Homo sapiens: one gene and its partners. The protein of the gene in region 1 purifies or fractionates together with the protein of each later gene. This does not show direct contact. Each region holds a gene or a part of one and is shown on either strand. Other genes may lie near its edges.

What was found.
Region 2: the proteins of PCDHGB2 (region 1) and OPA3 purify together in Homo sapiens (co-immunoprecipitation; 2 studies listed by BioGRID and IntAct, with this or other methods). This does not show direct contact.
Region 3: the proteins of PCDHGB2 (region 1) and SPECC1 purify together in Homo sapiens (co-immunoprecipitation; 2 studies listed by BioGRID and IntAct, with this or other methods). This does not show direct contact.

Annotation. Positions count from the first base shown.
Region 1 is NC_000005.10:141,355,512-141,363,099, forward strand, and holds the start of PCDHGB2 (protocadherin gamma-B2 isoform 1 precursor), read left to right. Parts: upstream 1-4,482; 5' UTR 4,483-4,624; coding exon 4,625-7,045; coding exon of another isoform or gene 7,046-7,060; intron 7,061-7,588. Other genes in the region: PCDHGA4 (protocadherin gamma-A4 isoform 1 precursor), read left to right, coding at 1-2,110. UniProt on the Homo sapiens protein: Potential calcium-dependent cell-adhesion protein. May be involved in the establishment and maintenance of specific neuronal connections in the brain.
Region 2 is NC_000019.10:45,574,761-45,581,868, reverse strand, and holds part of OPA3 (optic atrophy 3 protein), read left to right. Parts: intron 1-7,108. UniProt on the Homo sapiens protein: May play some role in mitochondrial processes.
Region 3 is NC_000017.11:20,012,291-20,019,398, forward strand, and holds part of SPECC1 (cytospin-B), read left to right. Parts: intron 1-4,854; exon of another isoform or gene 4,855-5,315; intron 5,316-5,696; exon of another isoform or gene 5,697-5,812; intron 5,813-7,108.

The DNA of each region.
Region 1 (7,588 bases):
AAACCTGGAGATTCTTCTAGAAGATACAGTGAAGATTTTGCGGGTAGAGGTGGAAATAATCGATGTTAATGATAACCCACCCAGTTTTGGGACAGAACAGAGGGAAATAAAAGTTGCTGAAAATGAAAATCCTGGGGCAAGATTTCCTCTTCCTGAAGCTTTTGATCCGGATGTAGGTGTAAACTCCCTGCAGGGTTACCAGCTCAACTCAAACGGTTACTTTTCCCTGGACGTGCAAAGTGGGGCCGATGGGATTAAGTACCCAGAGCTGGTGCTGGAACGCGCTCTAGATCGCGAGGAAGAGGCGGTTCACCACCTCGTTCTCACGGCCTTCGATGGAGGTGACCCGGTTCGCTCTGGCACTGCCAGGATTCTCATAATACTTGTGGATACCAACGATAATGCTCCCGTGTTCACTCAGCCCGAGTACCACGTAAGTGTTCGTGAGAACGTTCCTGTAGGCACTCGGCTACTCACCGTAAAAGCCACTGATCCAGATGAAGGAGCCAATGGAGACGTGACGTATTCTTTCCGGAAAGTAAGAGACAAAATATCACAGCTATTTCAGTTGAATTCTCTGAGTGGGGATATAACAATATTGGGGGGTCTAGATTATGAGGACTCTGGATTCTATGACATAGATGTAGAAGCCCATGATGGGCCTGGTCTCCGAGCTAGAAGCAAGGTACTGGTGACAGTTCTGGATGAAAATGACAACGCACCAGAAGTCACAGTTACATCTCTCACCAGCTCAGTCCAGGAATCTTCTTCCCCGGGTACAGTAATTGCACTTTTCAACGTGCATGACAGTGACTCAGGAGGAAATGGCCTAGTCACATGTTCTATTCCAGATAATCTGCCATTCACACTTGAAAAGACCTATGGAAATTATTATCGGTTGTTGACACACAGAACACTGGACAGGGAAGAAGTCTCAGAATATAACATCACTGTAACTGCCACTGACCAGGGAACTCCTCCACTGTCTACAGAAACTCATATTTCACTGCAAGTGATGGACATCAATGACAACCCACCCACTTTCCCTCATGCTTCCTACTCTGCTTACATTCCTGAAAACAACCCCAGAGGAGCCTCCATCTTATCTATGACTGCTCAAGACCCTGACAGTGGTGACAATGCCCGAATCACTTACTCCCTGGCCGAAGACACCTTCCAGGGTGCACCTCTGTCCTCCTATGTCTCCATCAACTCCAATACAGGGATCCTATATGCTCTTTGCTCCTTCGACTATGAGCAGTTTAGAGACCTGCAGCTGCTGATGACAGCCAGTGACAGTGGAGACCCTCCACTCAGCAGCAATGTGTCACTGAGCCTCTTTGTGCTGGACCAGAACGACAATGTCCCTGAGATCCTGTACCCCACCTTCCCTACTGATGGCTCCACTGGTGTGGAGCTGGCACCCCGCTCCGCAGATTCCGGCTACCTGGTGACCAAAGTGGTGGCAGTGGACAGAGACTCAGGTCAGAATGCCTGGCTGTCCTACAGCCTACTCAAGTCCAGCGAGCCGGGACTATTTGCAGTGGGGCTGCACACAGGCGAGGTGCGCACCGCACGGGCCCTGCTGGACAGAGACGCGCTCAAGCAGAGGCTTGTAGTGGTCGTCCAGGACCATGGCCAGCCCCCTCTCTCGGCCACCGTCACACTCACTGTGGCTGTGGCCGACAGCATCCCAGATGTCCTGGCTGACTTGGGCAGCCTCAAGCCTTCAGCAGACCCAGACGACTCGGGCCTCACACTCTATCTCGTGGTGGCAGTGGCCGCTGTCTCCTGCGTCTTCCTGGCTTTTGTCACGGTGCTGCTAGCACTCAAGCTGAGACGCTGGCACAAGTCACGCCTGCTTCACGCTGAAGGCAGCAGGTTGGCAGGTGTGCCTGCCTCGCACTTTGTGGGCGTGGACGGGGTTCGGGCTTTCCTGCAGACCTATTCCCACGAGGTCTCCCTCACCGCGGACTCGCGGAAGAGTCACCTGATCTTCTCCCAACCCAGCTATGCAGACACGCTCATCAGCCGGGAGAGTTGTGAGAAAAGCGAGCCTCTTCTGATAACTCAGGATTTACTTGAAACAAAAGGAGACCCTAATCTTCAGGTGAGTCAATCTTATAATAGATCATACCACACTGAAATATAGACAAAGAGTTGTGTAAATGTCTCTCATTTTATATGTAATATATCAAATAAAGTTGCCTCTTTTAATATTTTATTGCTTTAAAGAAAACTGGTGGATGACCTTCCAATAATGATCAACAGTATTTACCACACAAAAATGTTGTTTATTACTTATCCTTTTTGGTCTTCATTCAGTTGTAGTTTCAGCCAGAATTTTCTAATTTTACAACTCTGAGCCACCTCATTTCCTTAAATTTCCTTTTCTGTGCTGGGTGTGGTGGCTCACACCTGTAATCCTAACACTTTGGGAGTGTGAGGAGGACGGATTGCCTGAGCTCAGGAGTTCGAGACCAGTCTGGGCAACATGGTGAAACCCAGTCTCTACTAAAATACAAAAAGTTAGCTAGGCGTGGTGGTGTGTGCCCGTAGTCCCAGCTACCCTGGAGGCTGAGGCATGAGAATTGCTTGAACCTGGGAGGCAGAGGTTGCAATGAGCTGAGATCATGACACTGTACTCCAGCCTGGGCAACAGAGCAAGCCTCTGTCTCCAAAAAGTAAAATAAAATAAAGTAAAATAAAGAATAAATTTCCTTTTCTCTTAGGTGTTCCTGAAAAGATACAAGAGACCTGTAAAATAGAAGGCAATTGTGTAAATTCACATTTACAATATTCTTTCTCATGAAGCTATTGTTGGATCTGGACTGAGGGTTTTTTAATTTCCTATTTTCACACTCTACCATGCTTTGCTTGAAGTTTACTTTTCCTTCCTTGAAAGGGTATTTTCCATTATAACAGGCAACGTCAATTTAAGAATACTGGCAATTTGTGAGTTTAACTTTTAGATATAACTTTAACAGGATATTTTCTCAATGAACTGGTATATTTCAAATATTTTCTTGTTGCTGTTCTGAGATGCACCAGAAGTGACTATGTGTGATTCCTCTGGTGCACTCCTGTGATTATGAGAAATATTTCCAAGCTAATTTCAGTCATATATAAGTAGATTCTAGGAGTAACTTTAATAATTTTTAAATTGCTTATCATGACATCACTATTGAGACTTTCTTGATTTCCAAGGAAAATATAAGTTTTTGGAGTCTTTTCTCTTGTCATCATGTGAGCCTCTTTCAAAGGTTGAGTTACTTGGGTTCTGGACTGATATGATTTACGCTGCTTAGTAAGGTGGCCTCATCCCTATTGCTACAAATTGCTTTCAGATATTTCTGTCATCATGTGGCTCTGGGATTATTTTATATGAGGGAAAATATTTTGTGTGTAGGGGATATACAACACTTTTGTTCTTTGTGCTTTCATTTAGGTTCTGTGAGAATTCAAAATTCATGAATGCATATGCTTACACAAATTAGTGTAATTTGATAACTGGAAGTTGTAGTGATAGACTGTGGAATATGCCTCAATTTGACTTACAAAGGAGAGTTTTAGTTTCTACATGGTTTTGTATTCATAGAAAGTTGTGGTGCAATACATAGAGTAAGCTGGAATATGATATGATGCAGTTACCTGGCTTGGGGAGCAGAAAGCAGAAATAACAAGTGAATGTTGAGAGACAACTTACATCTGAGGAGAGATTGTTTAAAGTAATTAAGCCATAAAATATAATTTGGAAATGCTCAATTGGTCTGAAACTGTGTCAAGCATATTCAGGTGTTGGCATTAGGAATATATTCCAGAATGAGAGTGCCACATGTTTTAAAGGCCTAGGAAAGCAGTAGATAATTTATAACCTAAAATCAAATTTTTTAAAAAATGTGTTTTTGTTAGAATGGGCAGTGGGTTTCTTTTAGCAAATAACAATTTTGATTAAACAAATTGTTGTATATTCATATTACGGACTACTAGATAACTATATTATGGGCCACTAGATAACTATAAGAAATAAATAGGAAAGCTCTCTATGTACTGATATGATCTTTAAGATATAACAACTAAAAAAGCAATGTGCAGAATATGGTATGTTGTATGCTTACATTTGTGTAAAGAAGGAGACAGAATATTTATAAAAATCCGTTGCCCTATACAAGACATATCTCCGGAAGGATACCTAAGAAACTTTAACACTCATTTCCCCTGTGAAAGCATTTCTCCTCATCTAAAGCAGAGATGAAAGGAAGAACCTATGCTGAATGCATCTTTTGAATTTGGAACTATATGAATATTTCACATATTTTAAAACAAATGAAGACTTTATAAATTAAAAAAGAAAAGAAAAGAAAAAAGTTCTTAGCAAATATTGACAAGCCATTAGTGCAGTTTCCTGAGAAAACCTCTGAGCGTCGCTGTTGGTCAAAAGAACGAAGAGAAGCGTTTGGGAGCCTCTTAGAGGGGAACTTCCTGCACAAACCAACCACACAGAGAAGGCCAGTATAGATTCGGAAACAGAAAACAAAAGCAGGAAAAGTGACCTTAGCCCGGATTCTGCCATCCCCGGAAGGCTTATTCCTCCTATGGGCAAAGGAGCAAAGGGAGCCAGAAGATGAAAGCGAGCTCAGGGAGGTGCGGGCTGGTGCGGTGGCTGCAGGTACTGTTGCCCTTCCTGTTGTCTTTGTTCCCCGGGGCTCTCCCAGTCCAGATCCGCTATTCAATTCCAGAGGAGCTGGCCAAAAACTCGGTCGTAGGAAACCTCGCCAAGGATCTGGGGCTCAGCGTCCGGGACTTGCCAGCCCGGAAGCTGCGGGTTAGCGCGGAGAAGGAATATTTCACAGTAAACCCAGAAAGCGGAGACTTACTTGTGAGTGACAGAATAGACCGAGAACAGATATGCGGGAAGCAGCCTCTGTGTGTTCTGGATTTCGATACTGTCGCTGAAAATCCACTAAATATTTTCTACATAGCAGTAATTGTGCAGGATATAAATGATAATACCCCGCTATTCAAACAGACTAAGATTAATTTAAAAATTGGCGAATCCACTAAGCCAGGTACAACATTTCCACTTGACCCAGCCCTGGATTCAGATGTTGGTCCTAACTCACTACAAAGATACCACCTTAATGACAACGAGTACTTTGATCTCGCTGAGAAACAGACTCCAGATGGTCGTAAATATCCTGAGTTGATTCTAAAACACTCTCTGGACAGAGAAGAGCACAGTTTACATCAATTGGTCCTCACAGCTGTGGATGGCGGAGACCCACCTCAAAGTGGCACGACCCAAATCCGAATCAAAGTCACGGATGCCAACGATAACCCTCCAGTGTTCAGCCAGGACGTGTACAGGGTCACCCTGAGGGAGGACGTGCCGCCGGGCTTCTTTGTGCTTCAAGTGACAGCCACCGACCGGGATGAAGGCATAAACGCAGAGATCACCTACTCCTTTCATAATGTGGACGAACAAGTGAAACACTTTTTCAACTTAAATGAAAAAACAGGAGAAATCACGACAAAGGATGATTTGGATTTTGAGATTGCAAGTAGTTACACTCTGAGTATCGAAGCAAAAGATCCTGGAGATCTAGCAGCCCACTGCAGTATCCAAGTTGAAATTCTTGATGACAACGATTGTGCACCTGAAGTTATTGTGACTTCAGTATCTACTCCCCTACCGGAGGATTCGCCACCAGGAACAGTGATCGCCTTGATAAAAACGAGAGACAGAGACTCTGGAGAAAATGGAGAAGTTTACTGCCAAGTGTTGGGAAATGCCAAGTTTATTTTGAAATCTTCCTCAAAGAACTATTACAAACTAGTGACAGACGGCGCTCTGGACCGGGAGGAGATCCCAGAATACAATCTCACCATCACAGCCACCGACGGGGGCAAGCCGCCCCTCTCCTCCAGCATAATTGTCACCCTGCACATCTCCGACGTCAACGATAATGCCCCAGTTTTCCAACAGACTTCCTACATGGTTCACGTGGCAGAGAACAATCCTCCTGGCGCCTCTATCGCTCAAATCAGTGCCTCTGACCCTGACTTGGGCCCCAGTGGCCAAGTTTCCTACTCCATCGTAGCGAGCGACCTGAAGCCGCGGGAGATTTTATCCTACGTGTCCGTGAGCGCGCAGAGCGGGGTGGTGTTCGCGCAGCGCGCCTTCGATCATGAGCAGCTGCGCGCCTTCGAGCTCACACTGCAGGCCCGCGACCAGGGCTCGCCCGCGCTCAGCGCCAACGTGAGCCTGCGCGTGTTAGTGGGCGACCTCAATGACAATGCGCCACGGGTGCTGTACCCCGCGCTGGGGCCTGATGGCTCCGCCCTCTTCGATATGGTGCCACGCGCCGCAGAGCCCGGCTACCTGGTGACCAAGGTGGTGGCGGTGGACGCAGACTCAGGACACAACGCTTGGCTGTCCTACCACGTGCTGCAGGCCAGCGAGCCCGGGCTCTTCAGCCTGGGGTTGCGCACGGGTGAGGTGCGCACAGCGCGTGCCTTGGGCGACAGGGACGCGGCCCGCCAGCGCCTGCTGGTCGCTGTGCGTGATGGAGGACAGCCGCCACTCTCCGCTACGGCCACGCTGCACCTAATCTTCGCGGATAGCCTGCAAGAGGTATTGCCAGACCTCAGCGACCGCCGGGAGCCCTCTGACCCCCAGGCAAAACTGCAGTTTTACCTGGTTGTGGCCTTGGCCTTGATCTCAGTGCTCTTCTTCCTCGCGGTGATTCTGGCAATCTCCCTGCGCCTGCGACTCTCTTCCAGGTCAGATGCTTGGGACTGTTTTCAGCCTGGTCTCAGCTCCAAGCCTGGACCTGGGGTTCTCCCCAATTACAGTGAGGGTACATTGCCCTATTCCTACAACCTGTGTGTTGCCTCACAATCAGCCAAGACAGAGTTCAATTTTCTGAACATAACCCCGGAATTGGTTCCCGCGCAAGATCTCGTCTGTGACAATGCCTCTTGGGAACAAAATACAAATCATGGAGCCGCTGGGGTCCCTTTTGCCTCAGATACTATTTTGAAGGTGAGCTTTAATTAATTTATTTTCACTTCTGGTTTTATTGTTTCACCTAATTTGGGTAGGAAGTTCCACTGCGTATTTCTTTGTCTGTGAGTTAGATTTGGCCAATGTTGTGCCTTAATTGTCTTAATCTTATCTAACTGAATTTTAAGTGTTTTCTCTCTGAAGTGTGAGATTTATTTACCCATGATTGCAAACCTTTATCACATGAGATATTGCACTGTATTTCTTTTTCTTCCTCATCTTTACATTACTTCTCTCTGCAGATTTGTTGCTATTGAGACTTTAGGCAATTAGTTTCACCTTCAGGCTCTTTGTTATTCAAATTTTAGTTTTACTTCCTCTTAGAATCATAATACTTCAGAGTAAAGAGAGTCTTCATTTTAGTAGGCTTTGGAAATTGGGAAACAAAGAAGAAAGACTTTTGCATAATGGCATGGCTTGTTAATCACAGGGCATGGGTAGGACATTGTCCCATTGACTTGAAGACCAACACTCAGTAAGCTAAATGTCTTGGAATCACAAATGTATTTCTAAAGGACAGGC
Region 2 (7,108 bases), on another chromosome or scaffold:
CGAGATTGCACCACTGCCCTCCAGTCTGGGCAACAGAGCAAGACTGTCTCAATCTCAAACAAACAAACAAAACACCCTCCCGCACAGCCAACTCTGCGTGAATTACTCTTTGTCTTGCAGTTCTCCTCTCTTGATGAATCAGCTCTGTCTAGGCAGCGGGCAAGGTGAACTCCTTGGGCGGTTACACACCATTCATCCCTCCATCCATTCATTATTTCCTTTAGCTGGTATTTTGTGAGCCTCTGCCCTGTGCCAGGCCTTGTGCTGGCAATGCTGGCGAAACAGCAGGGACCAAACCAGCACCAATCTGTGCCCTCAAGGAATTCCTAGTCCTGCGGGGGACAGACGTATCCCCCAACAGTGGGCAGAGCTGAGATGGGGGAGCCCACTGGGCACCTGACATGGCATGGGGTTCAGGGAGGGCTTCCTGGCAGAGGAGACATCTGAATTGGGACCTGAAGGGTGAGGACAACACCAGGACAAGGCGTAAGGAAAGCACTGGGGCAGAGGGAGGAGCACACACAAAGCCCACATGATTAAGGGAGTGCACTTTTTTTCCCCCTCTGTAAGTTTGGATGCTTAAAGTTTGCTTTCCAGGGCCCGGAATTCTTGGTTGTTCGGTGTTTGGTGGGGTCTTTGTTGGGGCTGCAGCTCTTAGAATGGGAAAGTATTAGATTTCACAGTTACCAAAGTGCTTTCCTGTTAGCCATCTCATTTGACCCCCACAACTGTTTTGTCCCCATGTCCGGAAAGAGGAATGACTTCCTCTGGTTTATAGAAGGGAAAATGGAGGTGTTGAGGGCAGCAGTTAATTGCTCAGGTCATACGCAGAGATTTGTGCCAGAGGCGAAACTTTGGACACTGAATTCCTAGACCCAGTTTGTTTCCTGTCTCTGCCTGTCTTCCAAACACTGTGACATTCTTAGCGTTGTGGTTTAGAAAATGGCTTCTGGAGCTGGGCGCAGTGGCTCATGCCTGTAATCCCAGCACTTTGGAAGGCGGAGGTGGGTGGATCATGAGGTCAGGAGTTCAAGACCAGCCTGGCCAACATGGTGAAACCCTGTCTCTACTCAAAATACAAAATTAGGCAGGTGTGGTGGCGCACACCTGTAGTCCCAGCTACTTGGGAGGCTGAGGCAGGAGAATTGCTTGAACCTGGGAGGCAGAGGTTGCAGTGAGCCAAGATCACACCACTGCACTCCAGCTTGGGCGACAGAGCGAGACTCTGTCTCAATAAATAAATAAATAAATAAATAAATAAATAAATAGGCTTCTGTGCTGGGCGCGGTGCCTCCCACCTATAATCCCAGCACTTTGGGAGGCCGAGGCAGGCAGATCACCTGAGGTCGGGAATTAGAGACCAGCCTCACCAACATGGAGAAACCCCGTCTCTACTAAAAATACAAAATTAGCCAGACGTGGTGGCGCATGCCTGTAATCCCAGCTACTCGGGAGGCTGAGGCAGGAGAATCGCTTGAACCCAGGAGGTGGAGGTTGCAGTGAGCCGAGATCACGCCATTGCACTCCAGCCTGGGCAACAAGAGTGAAACTCTGTCTCAAAAAAAAAAAAAAAAAGGCCGGGTGCAGTGGCTCGCGCCTGTAATCCCAACACTTTGGGAGGCCAAGGTGGGCAGATCACGAAGTCAAATTTCAAGACCTGCCTGACCAACATGGTGAAACCCCTTCTCTACTAAAAATACAAAAATTAGCTGGGCGTGGTGGCACGCGCCTGTAATCCCAGCTACTCGGGAGGCTGAGGCAGAAGAATCACTTGAACATGGGAGGCGGAGGTTGCAGTGAGCCGAGATCGTGCCACTACACTCCAGCCTGGGTGACAGAGCGAGACTCCATATCAAAAAAAAAAAAAGAAAAAAAAAAAGAAAGAAAATGGCTTCTGGAGTCAGACTGACATAGGTTTGAATCCCTACCCAGACTGGTGACTTTGGGTACGTCATTTAGCCCCTCTTAGCTTCAATTTCCGATTCTGTACATTGGGTATTATGTAATGGTCACATTAACTGGGCTTGTACTTTGTGCCACGGCTTGTCTGCAGCACCTTCCAGCCTCTGGCACTGGGTCCTCACCAGTTATGATGAGGTAGATACTATTATTATTATTATTATTATTTTGTGTATATACTATGTATGCATTATGCTGTAAATAATATTTATTGTGTTGTGGTGAGGATTAAGTAAATGGATATAAAATGTTAAGTCAGTGCCTGGCATAGGGTCATGGCTGTCACGTAGATGTTATAGATACAACAGGCAGGAAAAAGCAAAACATCTTGCCCTCAGGTACCTTACATTCTTGTGGAGGAAGCCAGACAATAAATGAAATAAATAGTTGGCTGGGCCCAGTGGCTCATGCCTGTAATCCCAGCACTTTGGGAGGCTGAGGCTGGTGCATCACTTGAGGTCAGGAGTTTGAGACCAGCCTGGGCAACATGGTGAAACCCCATCTCTACTAAAAATACAAAAATTAGCCAGGTGTGGTGGCAGGCACCTGTAATCCCAGTTACTTAGGAGGCTTAGGCAGGAGAATCACTTGAACCCAAGAGGCAGAGGTTGCAGTGAGCCGAGATTGCACCACTGCACTCCAGCCTGGGTGACAGAGTGAGATTCCATCTCAAAAAATAGTTAAAAGATGAAGTATATTAGATAGCAATAATTGCTCTAGGAAAAAAATCAGGGTTGTAGAACAAGGAGTATTTAAAGGAAGGCTATAAGCCTAGATAGGATTGTCAGGGAGAACTCACTGAAAATATGCCAAGGAGGGAGGGAACGAGCAGCATTGCCATCTGGGGGAAGAAACGTTCCAGCCCAGAGGATCCCGCATGCACACAGGACCTGAGGCATGAGCGTGCCTGGCACACAGGACAGAGGAAACTGATGACGGGAAAGGGGGACAGTTTGTATGGGGCCTGTGGGTCACTGCAAATGCCTTGGCTTTACTCTGAGTGGAACAGGACTTACTGGAGGGTTCTGTGCAGCAGAAGGACAATATCAGAGTTCTGTTTTATTTTATTTTATTTTATTTTTTGAGACAGAGTCGCACTCCGACACCCAGGCTGGAGTGCAATGGTGTGATCTTGGCTCACCACAACTTCCGCCTCCCGGGTTCAAGTGATTCTCCTGCCTCAGCCTCCCGAGTAGCTGGGATTACAGGCATGCGCCACCACGCCCGGCTAATTTTGTATTTTAAGTAGAGATGGGGTTTCTCCATGTTGATCAGGCTGGTCTCTAACTCCCAACGTCAGGAGATCTGCCCGCCTTGGCCTCCCAAAGTGCTGGGATTACAGGCATGAGCCACCACGCCTGGCCCGGGAGCAGAGTTTTTAAGGATAACTTGGTGGGTGAGGGGAAGCCAGTGAGCCAGGAGTGCTGATTGGTCAGAGATGAAATCATAGGAATTCAGAGATGTCTTGTGCTCAGTTAGTTCCTGGGTGGCGGTGGGGGAGGGGGAGGGCGGGCACAAGATCAGATGAGCCAATTTTTTGATCTGGGTGGGGCCAGCTGATCCATCAAGTGCAGAGTCTGCAGAATATCTCAAGCACTGATCTTAGGAGCAGTTTAGGGAGGGTCAGAATCTTGTATCCTCCAGCTGCATGACTCCTAAACCATAATTTCTAATCTTGTGGCTAATGTTAGTCCTACAAAGGCAATCTAGTCACCAGGCAAGAAGGAGGTCTGCTTTGGGAAAGGGCTGTTACCATGTTTGTTTAAACTATAAACTAAGTTTCTCCCAAAGTTAGTTCAGCCTTCACTCAGGAATGAACAAGGACAGCTTGGAGGTTGGAAGTAAGATGGAGTCAGTCAAGTTAGATCTCTTTTGCTGTGTCAGTCATAATTTTGCAAAGGCAGTTTCAGGATTACAGGCGTGAGCCACCACGCCTGGCCTCAAAATCTAAAATATTTACTCTCTGCCCCTTTACAGGAAGAGTTTTCTGACCCTGCTCTAGAATAGTATCCCTGCCCTTGTTTTTTGACATTGACATTGGAGCCAGTCCTCTGATTGATAGTGTGTCCCGATGTCTGGAGTCTCCTGATTGCTTCCCCGATTGGATTCATGTTGAACATGTTTGGCGGGAACACCACAGACTCGAGGTGCCTCCTAAGGACATCCCTTCAGGGGACTCCTGAGGTCTATTTGTTCTGTCATTTGTGATGGTGATTTGGATCGCTTGGTTAAGGTGTAACCATGTCAAGAACCTTTCCTTTTCCTCTTAGTAATGAATAACCAGTAGATTTGTTTACAAGGTAGAGCCAGCAGGATTTCCCATGGATTGGGTGTGAGACAGCCGACTGGAGGAGGGGCAGGTTGGACAGAAAGACCTGGAGCTCAGTTAGGGACAGGTCGAGTTGGAGATGCTACCAGATATTGCAATGTACTGGCTTCTTACATTTACACCTTTTAATTACATCATTAGTGTCTTCACACTGCTGATTGCCCTTTGCTGTGGCCCCCAGCCATGGTGATTGGAATTTCCCAGGGTGCACTGGCGGCCCTGCTTTCTCTCAGGTCAGGCGTCCTGAGCTGACCAGCAAATCCAGTATCTGTACCTTTGGCTGAGATACTTTTGACTCAGCAGGCTGCGCCCAGCTGTCTCACAGGAGAGGCTGGAGCAGTAGCTGTGGCTGCCTGAGGAAAGAACAGTACATGCTAGAAGCATAAATCATCGATGATGCACCCTGTTGGGGAGGCAAAGATCTTTTTAAACACAGAATTCCTTTGTTTAAATTATTTTAACCCAAAAGTAAAGGAGGTTGGTGATGTTAGGCAGGTTGAGGCCATGCCTGCAAAGTGCACTTTTGGTGCTCCCAGGGAGGCTGTGAGATATCTCTGGGCAGTAGGAAAATTCCAGCTCATCTGTGTTTATTCCTTTGGCGCGCACTGGTCCTTTTTCTGGTTTATCACACACAGTAGGCAGTAGAGTGACTGGTCCCCCAAAGATGTCCACATCCTTATCCCAAGAACCTGTTGAATATGTTACCATGCACAGCAAAGGTGACTTTGCAAATGTGATCAAATGAAGGATTTGGGGATGGGGAGATGATCCTGAATTATGCAGGTCAGGTCAGTGTGATCACAGGGGTCCTTATAAGGGAAAGAGGGAGGCAAGAGAGGGAATGATTTGAGGGATGCTGCCCCGCTGGCCTTGAAGATGGAGGAAGGGAGGCATGAGCCAAGGAATGCGGGCAGCCTCTGGAAGCTGGAAAAGCCGAGGAGATGGATTCTCCACTGGAGACTTCAGAAAGGAACACAGCCCTGCGGACACCTTGAGATTAGCCTAGTGAAAGCCATTTTGGACTTTTTTTTTTGGGGGGGGGGGGATGGAGTTTCATTCTTGTTGCCCAGATTGCAGTGCAGTGGCACGATCTCAACTCACTGCAATCTCTGCCTCCTGGGTTCAAGCGATTCTCCTGCCTCAGTCCCCTGAGTAGCACCCACCACCACACCTGGCACCCACCACCACACCTGGCTAATTTTTTGTATTTTTAGTAGAGATAGGGTTTCACCATGTTGGCTAGGCTGGTCTTGAACTCCTGACCTCAGGTGATCCACCTGCCTTGGCCTCCCAAAGTGCTGGGATTACAGGCGTGAGCCACTGCGCCCAGTTTTTTGTTTTGTTTTGTTTTGTTTTTTGAGAGGGGGTCTCACATGGTCGCCCAGGCTGGATTACAGTGGCATGATCTCAGCTCCCTGCAACCTCTGCATCCCGGTTTCAAGCGATTCTCCTGCCTTGGCCTCCTGAATAGCTGGGATTACAGGCGCATGCCCTAATTTTTGTATTATCAGTAGAGACGGGGGTTTCACCATGTTGGCCAGCTGGTCTTCAACTCCTGACCTCAGGTGATCCACCCGCCTTGGCCTCCCAGAGTGCTGGGATTACAGGCGTGAGCCACCACAACTGGCCCCCATTTCAGACTTCTGACTTCTGGAACTGTAAAATAATAAATTTAGGGCAGGTGCGGTGGTTCATGCCTGTTATCCCAGCACTTTAGAAGGTCGAGGCAGGAGGATCACTTGAACCCAGGGGTTCAAGACCAGCCTGGGCAACAAAGCGAGACCTTGTCCCTACTAAAAATAAAAAACAATTAGTGGGGCATGGTGATGCATGCCTATAGTTTTAGCCACTCAGGAGGCTGCGGCAGGATTGCTTGAGCCCAGGAGAATGAGGCTGCAGTGAGCTGTGACCGCACCCCTGCACTCCAGCCTGGGTGACAGAGCAAGACCCTGTCTCAAATAATAATAATAATTTGTGCTGTTTTAAGCCACTGCATTTGTGGTAGTTTGTTATAGTGGCCGTGGGAAACAGATACACCATGATCATTCATTCAGGTTGCTGAGGTCATTTTTTCAGAAGTGCTCAGCTCTGTGGCCATTCTTATGAATTTAGGCCATGGACTTGGTTTCAGTTTTCTTTTTCTACATAGCCATCTGATCCAAAGCTTGGTGGCTTACCGTAGTAACTCTTAGCCAGGTGCAGTGGCTCATGCCTGTAATCTCAGCACTTTGGGAGGTTGAGGTGGGTGGATCACTTCAGGCCAGGAGTTCGCGACTAGCCTGGGCAACATGGCAAAACCCTTTCTTTACTAAAAATACAAAAATTTAGCGGGTACCTGTGGTCCCAGCTTCTCAGGAGGCTGAGGCAGGAGAATCGCTTGAACCTGAGAGAGGTGGAGGCTGCAGTGAACCGAGATCGTGCCACAGCACTCCAGCCTGGGCAACAGAGCAAGACCCTGTCTCAAAAAGGCAAACAAACAAAAAACCCAGTCACTCTTAGTTTCTGTTACCTTTGTGGCTTGCCTGGGCTCAGCCGGACAGTTCTTTTGCTGGTTGCTGCTTGGCAGGCTCTCATCCAGGTGCAGGTGGAGGTGGCTGGGCTGGAGTCATCTGGAACTGGCACTGGGACTGGGGAGTTGGTTCCCTCTCAGCGTAGCCTCTGGGCCTCTCTTCTCCACGTGGTCTTTCCTGCAGGGTAGCTGAATATCTCACATGGCTGCTCAGGACTCCCCAACAGCCAGATTTTCATGAGGGAAGAAGCAGAAGCTGCAGGTTATTTAAGGGCAAGGCCTGGAATCTTCCAGCGTCATTTCCACCACAC
Region 3 (7,108 bases), on another chromosome or scaffold:
CTGCATCCTTAACTTATTTTTTTTCTCTGTTTGACCTGTTGATATGGAGAGTTGTATTGAAGACTCCCATTATGATTCTTGTAGGGGTTTTTGTACTATTTCTATGTTTAATATATATTTTTCTTTAAATGTTGTATTTTTGAAGCTGTTTTATGTGCTTAAAGGTTCACAATTCTTGTATCTTCTTGGTGAATTGTACCTTTTGGGAATAAACGAGCCATCTTATTTAATTTTTTTTTTGTTCATTCTCTTTATATTGCTGTACTTGCTTTTTGTTAGCATTTATATGGAATATCTTTTTCTAGTCACTGATTTTCAATTTTCTGTGTCTTCTTTAATTGTTACTCTTACCATTAGCTTATGGCTGGATTTTGTTTAATTAGTTAATCTTTGTCTTTTAATAAATATTGTGGTAAAATAACATAAAATTTATTATTTATTATTTTTATTTTTACCATTTACTACTTTTAAGTTTACAGTTCCCCAGTGTTAAGTGTGTGCACATTGTTATGCAACCAATCTCCAGAATTTTTTCATCTTACAAAATTGAAGCTCTGTATCCATTACCGCAGCCCCTGGCAACCACCATTCTGCTTTTTGTCTCTATGAATTTGCCTATTTTAGGTACCTTGCATGAGTATCTAATATAGTACCTCATATAGTATTTGTCTTTTTATAACTGGCTTATTTCATTTAATGTAATGCCCTCAAGGTTCATCCATGTTGTAGCATGTGTCAGAATTTTCTTCATTTTTATTGCTAATTAATATTCCATTGAATGTATACACCACATTTTGCTTATCCATATATTTATCAAAGGATATTTATGTTGGTTCCACATCATAGCTATTATGAATAATGCTGCCATGATCATGGGTGTACAAATATCTCTTCAAGACCCTGCTTTCAGTTATTTGGGTATATACCCAGAAGTAGAATTGTTGGATCAAGTAGTACTTCTATTTTTAATTTTTTGATGACCCAGCATAGTGTTTTCCGCAGAGGCTGAACCATTTTATATTCTCACCAGCAATGCGTGAGAATTTCAGTTTCCATACATCCTTGCTAACATCTGTTATTCTCTCTCTTTTTTTGATAGTAGCTATCCTTATGGGTGTGAAATCTTTGTCTTTTAATAGGTAGCTTTAGCCCATTTATATTTATTTTGATTACTGATCTTTTGCGGATTATTCCTGTCATCTTATTTTATATTTTTGATTTCCTTTTTTGAGACGGAGTCTTGCTCTATCGTCCAGGCTGGAGTGCAGTGGCACGATCTCCGCTCACTGCGACCTCCGGCTTTCGGGTTCAAACGATTCTCCCAACCCAGCCTCCCGAGTAGCTGGAATTACAGGCCTGCAACCACTATGCCCGGCTAATTTTTGTGTTTTTAGTGGGGACAGGTTTTAACCGTGTTGGCCAGGCTAGTCTCAAATTTCTGACCTCAAGTGATCTGCCTGCCTTACCCGCCCAAAGTGCTGAGATTACAGGCATGAACCACTGTGCCGAGCTGGTTCATTTCATTCTCATTGCTGTGTATATGCCATTGTATATATCCCTAATATAGATATACATTTGACTTTGATTGGCAGTTGGTTGTTTGCATTTTTGGACTATTATGAATAGTAAGTACATGAACACTCTAGTACACGTCTTTTGTTGAGTGAGTGTGTGCATTTCTGTTGAGTGTGTATCTGGGAGTGGAACTGCTTGGTTGTAGTCTGTGCATGTGCTCGGTTTTAGTAGATACTAGCAAACAGTTTTCAGTACCGGTTGCACCAACTTATTTACCCCAGAAGTATATGTGGTTGCTCCACATTCTTGCCAACTCTTGGTAATTTCTGTCTTTTACCTTTTAGTTATTCTGGTGGATACTGTGGTTTTAATTTGGATTTTCCTGATGATAAATGAATTTGCACTGTTTTGGTACCCTTAGTTTTTCACACATATCTAAACATTTTTTTCTCTTGCTATTAAAAGATAATCTGTTTATGTGAACTCTCCATGAGTAAAGCAAAAAAGAATCTTATCATGATTTTAATTCTGTCCCATATTAAATTTTTGGGTTTTCATACATTATGCATAAACAGTTATTTAGGTAAACTGTAAATTTTTCTGATTATTTACTCATCATTGGTGCTTTTATTTCATTTGTTTTCTTAATGAGTCCTTAAGTGATTATTTGGTTTTGTTTTCAGGGATTCTGTGAATGGTAAACTTTCTGAACCCTTGCATGTTTAAACAATGTTTTTTATTTCACTTTTCCATGTGAATATTCTTGACTGGGTATAGGATTCTACGTTAAAACCTTCTGAATTTTGGAGATATTGCTTTATCTGCTGGTATCTAGGAAGAAGTGCACGCGTCTGACTCTCGTTTCTTTGTAGTTAATGTTTATTTTCTCTGAAGCTTTACAATTTTTTTTCTTTCTCCTTGGTGTTCTAAAATTTAACTATTATTTGTCTAGGAGTGGATTTTTTTTTTGAGATGGAATCTTGCTCTGTCACCCAGGCTGGGAGTGTGGCATGATCTCGGCTCACTACAACCTCCACCTCCTGGTTTCAAGTGATTCTCCTGCCTTAGCCTCCCAAGTAGTTGGGATTACAGATGTGCACCACCATACCCAGCTAATGTTTGTATTTTTAGTACAGACAGGGTTTCACCATGTTGGCCTGACTGATCTCAAACTCCTGACCTCAGGTGATCCACCTGCCTCGGCCTCCCAAAGTGCTGGGATTACAGGCATGAGCCACTGCGCTTGGGCACCACACTGGCTTAAGAGTGGATCTCTTTTGTTCTTCCTGCTCAGCATTTGGTAGTCCGTTTCATTCTAAAGATTAATACACATTTCTATGGCACTGGAGAAGTTTTGAGTGTTTCCTTGCCTCTATTCTATTTTCTGCTTCTGGAATTATTCTTACTTGGGAATTAGAATATCTTGATTTATCTTTCATGTTTCTTGAAATAAGCATTTTTTTCTCTCAAATATTCTGTCTTTTTTAATTTAATTTTTTTTTTTTTTGAGACAGAGTATTGCTGTGTTGCCCAGGCCTGGAGTGCAATGGTGTGGTTCAATGTGACCTGCAACTCTTGGACTCAGGCAATTCCCCTGCCATACCACTGTGCCCAGCGGAAATGCTCTCTTTATCTTTATGGGCTGCATTCTGGGATGTTCCTTGGGCTGGTTTTGCAGGTCACCAATCTAATATTTAGATTTGTTCCGTCAACTCTTTAGCCCATCTCTTGAGTGTTTTTAAATATTGATTATCATATTTTTAACTTTCCGGGTCTCTATTTTTTTTTTTTTTTTTTGAGGTGGAGTCTCGCTCTGTCGCCCAGGCTGGAAGGCAATGGCACTATCTCGGCTCACTGCAAGCTCTGCCTCCCAGGTTCACGCCATTCTCCTGCCTCAGCCTCCCCAGTAGCGAGGACTGCCGGTGCCCACCACCACGCCCGGCTAATTTTTTGTATTTTTAGTAGCGACGGGGTTTCACTGTGTTAACCAGGATGATCTCGATCTCCTGACCTCGTGATCCGCCCGCCTCGGCCTCCCAAAGTGCTGGGGTTACAGGCGTGAGCCACCACGCCTGGCCACGGGTTTCTACTTCTTAAAGTTTAACTTTTGAAATAGGTAAGATAGGCAGGGCGCAGTGGCTCACGTCTGTAATCCCAGCACTTTGGGAGGCCGAGGCGGATGGATCACGAGGTCAGGAGATTGAGACCATCTGGCTAACATGGTGAAACTCCGCTTCTACTAAAAAAAAAATAAAATAAAAAATTAGCTGGGCGTGGTGGCGATTGCCTGTAGTCCCAGCTACTCAGGAGGTTGAGGCAGGAGAATGGTGTGAACCCGGGAGGCGGAGCTTGCAGTGAGCCAGGATGGCACCACTGCACTCCAGTCTGGGCGACAGAGAGCGACTCCATCTCAAAAAAAAAAAAAAAAAATAGGTAAGATAATCAGTGTTCAAAACCAGACTGTATTAAAAAGGCATAAATGAAAGTGAGAGGTGACAGCGTGCTGGCAGTCCTCGCTCGCTCTCGGTGCCTCCTCAGCCTTAGTGCCCACTCTGGCCGCGCTTGAGGAGCCCTTCAGCCCACCGCTGCACTGTGGGAGCCCCTTTCTGGGCTGGCCAAGGCTGGAGCCAGCTCCCTCAGCTTTGCAGGGAGGTGTGGAGGGAGAGGCGCGGGCGGGAACCGGGGCTGTACGCGGTGCTTGCGGGCCAGCGTGAGTTCCCGGTGGGCGTGGGCTTGGCGGGCCCCGCACTGGGAGCGGCCGGCCAGCCGGCCCCAACGGCCCCAGGCAGTGAGGGGCTTAGCACCTGGGCCAGCAGCTGCTGTGCCCGATTTCTCGCTGGGCCTTAGCTGCCTCCCTGCGGGGCAGCGCTCATGACCTGCGGCCCGCCATGCCTGAGCCACCCCCACCTCCTGGGCTCCTGTGCGGCCCGAGCCTCCCTGACAGCACCACCCCCTGCTCCACGGCGCCCAGTCCCATCGACCACCAGAGGGCTGAGGAGTGCGGGCGCAGGGCGCGGGACTGGCAGGCAGCTCCACCTGTGGCACTGATGCCGGATCCACTGGGTGAAGCCAGCTGGGCTCCTGAGTCTGGTGGGGACTTGAGAACCTTTATGTCTAGCTAAGGGATTGTAAATACACCAGTCAGCACCCTGTGTCTAGCTCAGGGATTGTAAACGCACCAATCAGCACTCTGTCAAAATGGACCAATCAGCTCTCTGAAAAATGGACCAATCGGTTCTCTGTAAAATGGAGCAGTCGGCTCTCTGTAAAATGGACCAATCAGCAGGATATGGGTGTGGCCAGATAAGAGAATAAAAGCAGGCTGCCCGAGCCAAGAGTGGTAACGTGCTGCGGTCGCATTCCGCGCTGCTGAAGGTTTGTCCTTTTGATGTTTGGAATGCGTTCTTATTACTGCTCACTCTTTGGGTCTGCACTGTCTATATGAGCTGCAACACACACCTCGAAGGTCTGCAGCTTCACTCCTGAAGCTAGCGAGACCACGAACTCACCAGGAGGAACGAACAACTCTAGATGCGCCCCCTTAAGAGCTGTAACACTCGCCGCGAAGGTCTGCAGCTTCACTCCTGAGTCAGCGAGACTACGAACCCACCAGAAGGAAGAAACTCCGAACACATCCAAACATCAGAAGGAACAAACTCCAGACACACCGCCTTTAAGAACTGTTACGCTCACCGCGAGGGTCCACGGCTTCATTCTCCAAGTCAGACCAAGAACCCACCAATTCCGGACACAAAAGGTGTTCCCACCATTCCTGTCCTCTTACTTCTCTCGCCTTACAAGTAGGTAACCATTGTTGTTAGTTACTTATGTACCTTCCAAAGTTTCTTCATGCAAATACAAGCAAATATGAATCAGATTCTCCATTTCTCCTTTTTTGCACAAATAGTAGCATTATTCTCTATCTGGTCTTCATCCTGTGTTTTTATTTCTTGGTATATCACAAAGATCGTCACATACCAACTGCTTGCTCTTTATAATGTCCCCTTAGGTCTTCCCAAGAATATCTAATAATTTCTTCTATGTGCTCTAGTAATTATCTTTGCTTGGGTTTGTGTTCTGTTGATTCAGTGTCCCTGTTTCATCATACTGAATAAAAACTTGGTGATTCTTTATGTGTTCATCTTCGAAGTTTGAGAATTCCTTTTTTCCTGTCTTACTAGGCGTAGCGTGCCTCCTGTGATTGTTGAAGAGCTGTGGTGTGCTGCTGAGTGGCGTGTGTATTCCATGTGAGGGGAAGGGTCCAACAGTCCTGGTCATTCAGACTGCAGTTCCCCAGGTAATCACCTTGTCAGGTTCTACCTCTGCTGTTCTATCTGCTGTTACAAGTCTGTTCCTGGAAACCTGTTACCATTTCCTTCTGCATAACAGCCTCCTCCCAAGCTTGTATTGGGCTATGGTTTGCTCAGGTAATCTGGTTCTGAGTACTTTTTACTTTTCAGAAATTTCCTAGACATTTTAGTTGGCCATCGGCACTCTTGTTTTCCAGGTTTCTTTTGATTTAGTGTTTTAAAAATGTTTCTACCATTCCATTGAATTTTAAGACACTTGGAAGGCAGAAGTATGTGTTTAGTTTATTGTTTTGGGGACAGGGTCTTGCTCTGTCTCCCAGGTTAGAGTGCATTGGCGCAGTCATAGGTCACTGTAACTTTGAACTTTTGGGCTTAACTGGTCCTCCTGCCTCGGCCTCCCAAAGCGCTGAGATTACCGGCATGGGCCACCATGCCCAGTCCTTGGTCTTTTATAATTTATTTCTGTGTTGGGGGCCCCCAGGACCATGCTCAGATCTGGTGGTTCACTTGGAAGACTCAGCATGTGGTGTACTCACGGCTGTAATTTATTACAGTGAAAGGATACAAAGCACAATCAGCAAAGGGAAAGGTGCATGGGGCCAAGTCCAAAGGAAGCCAGGCACAAGCTTCCAAGCATCCTCTCCCAGTGCAGTCACACAGGATGTATGTGCTTAACTCCCCGAGGAAGGAGCTGTGACAACGCATGTGAAATGCTGTCTACCAGGGAAACTCACTAGAGACCCAACACCCAGGGTTTTTATTGGGGGCTGGTCATGCAGGCCCCCTTTGCCCAGCACATACCACATTCCACGCTACCTGAAGAAAAGCAGGAGTTCAGCATAAACCACACAATAATTTAGGCACAGTGAGTCCCTCTTTCCAGGTTGGATGGTGGGAACCCTTCTGAAATCTAAGTTCCCAGGTGCCAGCCAAGGATTAACCATGCTTTTTATGAGACTTTTTAAGAATAACAGTCTTGGGCCAAGCACAATGGCTCATGTCTATAATCCCAACACTGTGGGAGACCAAGGTGGGAGGATCTCTTGAAGCCAGGAATTTGAGACTAGCCTGGCCAATACAGAAGACCCTATCATTCATTTATTTATTTATTTATTTATTTATTTATTTATTTATTTATTTATTTATTTATTTTAAAAAGCAGTCTTAGGCCTGCTGTGTTAACTCTTTTCTGTAAGATTTTCCTCCTGTGTTCCTCAGAAAAAGATGGACACTTTACCTAGAAATGACTTCTCCCAGTCAGATGGTCATGAATTTTTTTGCCT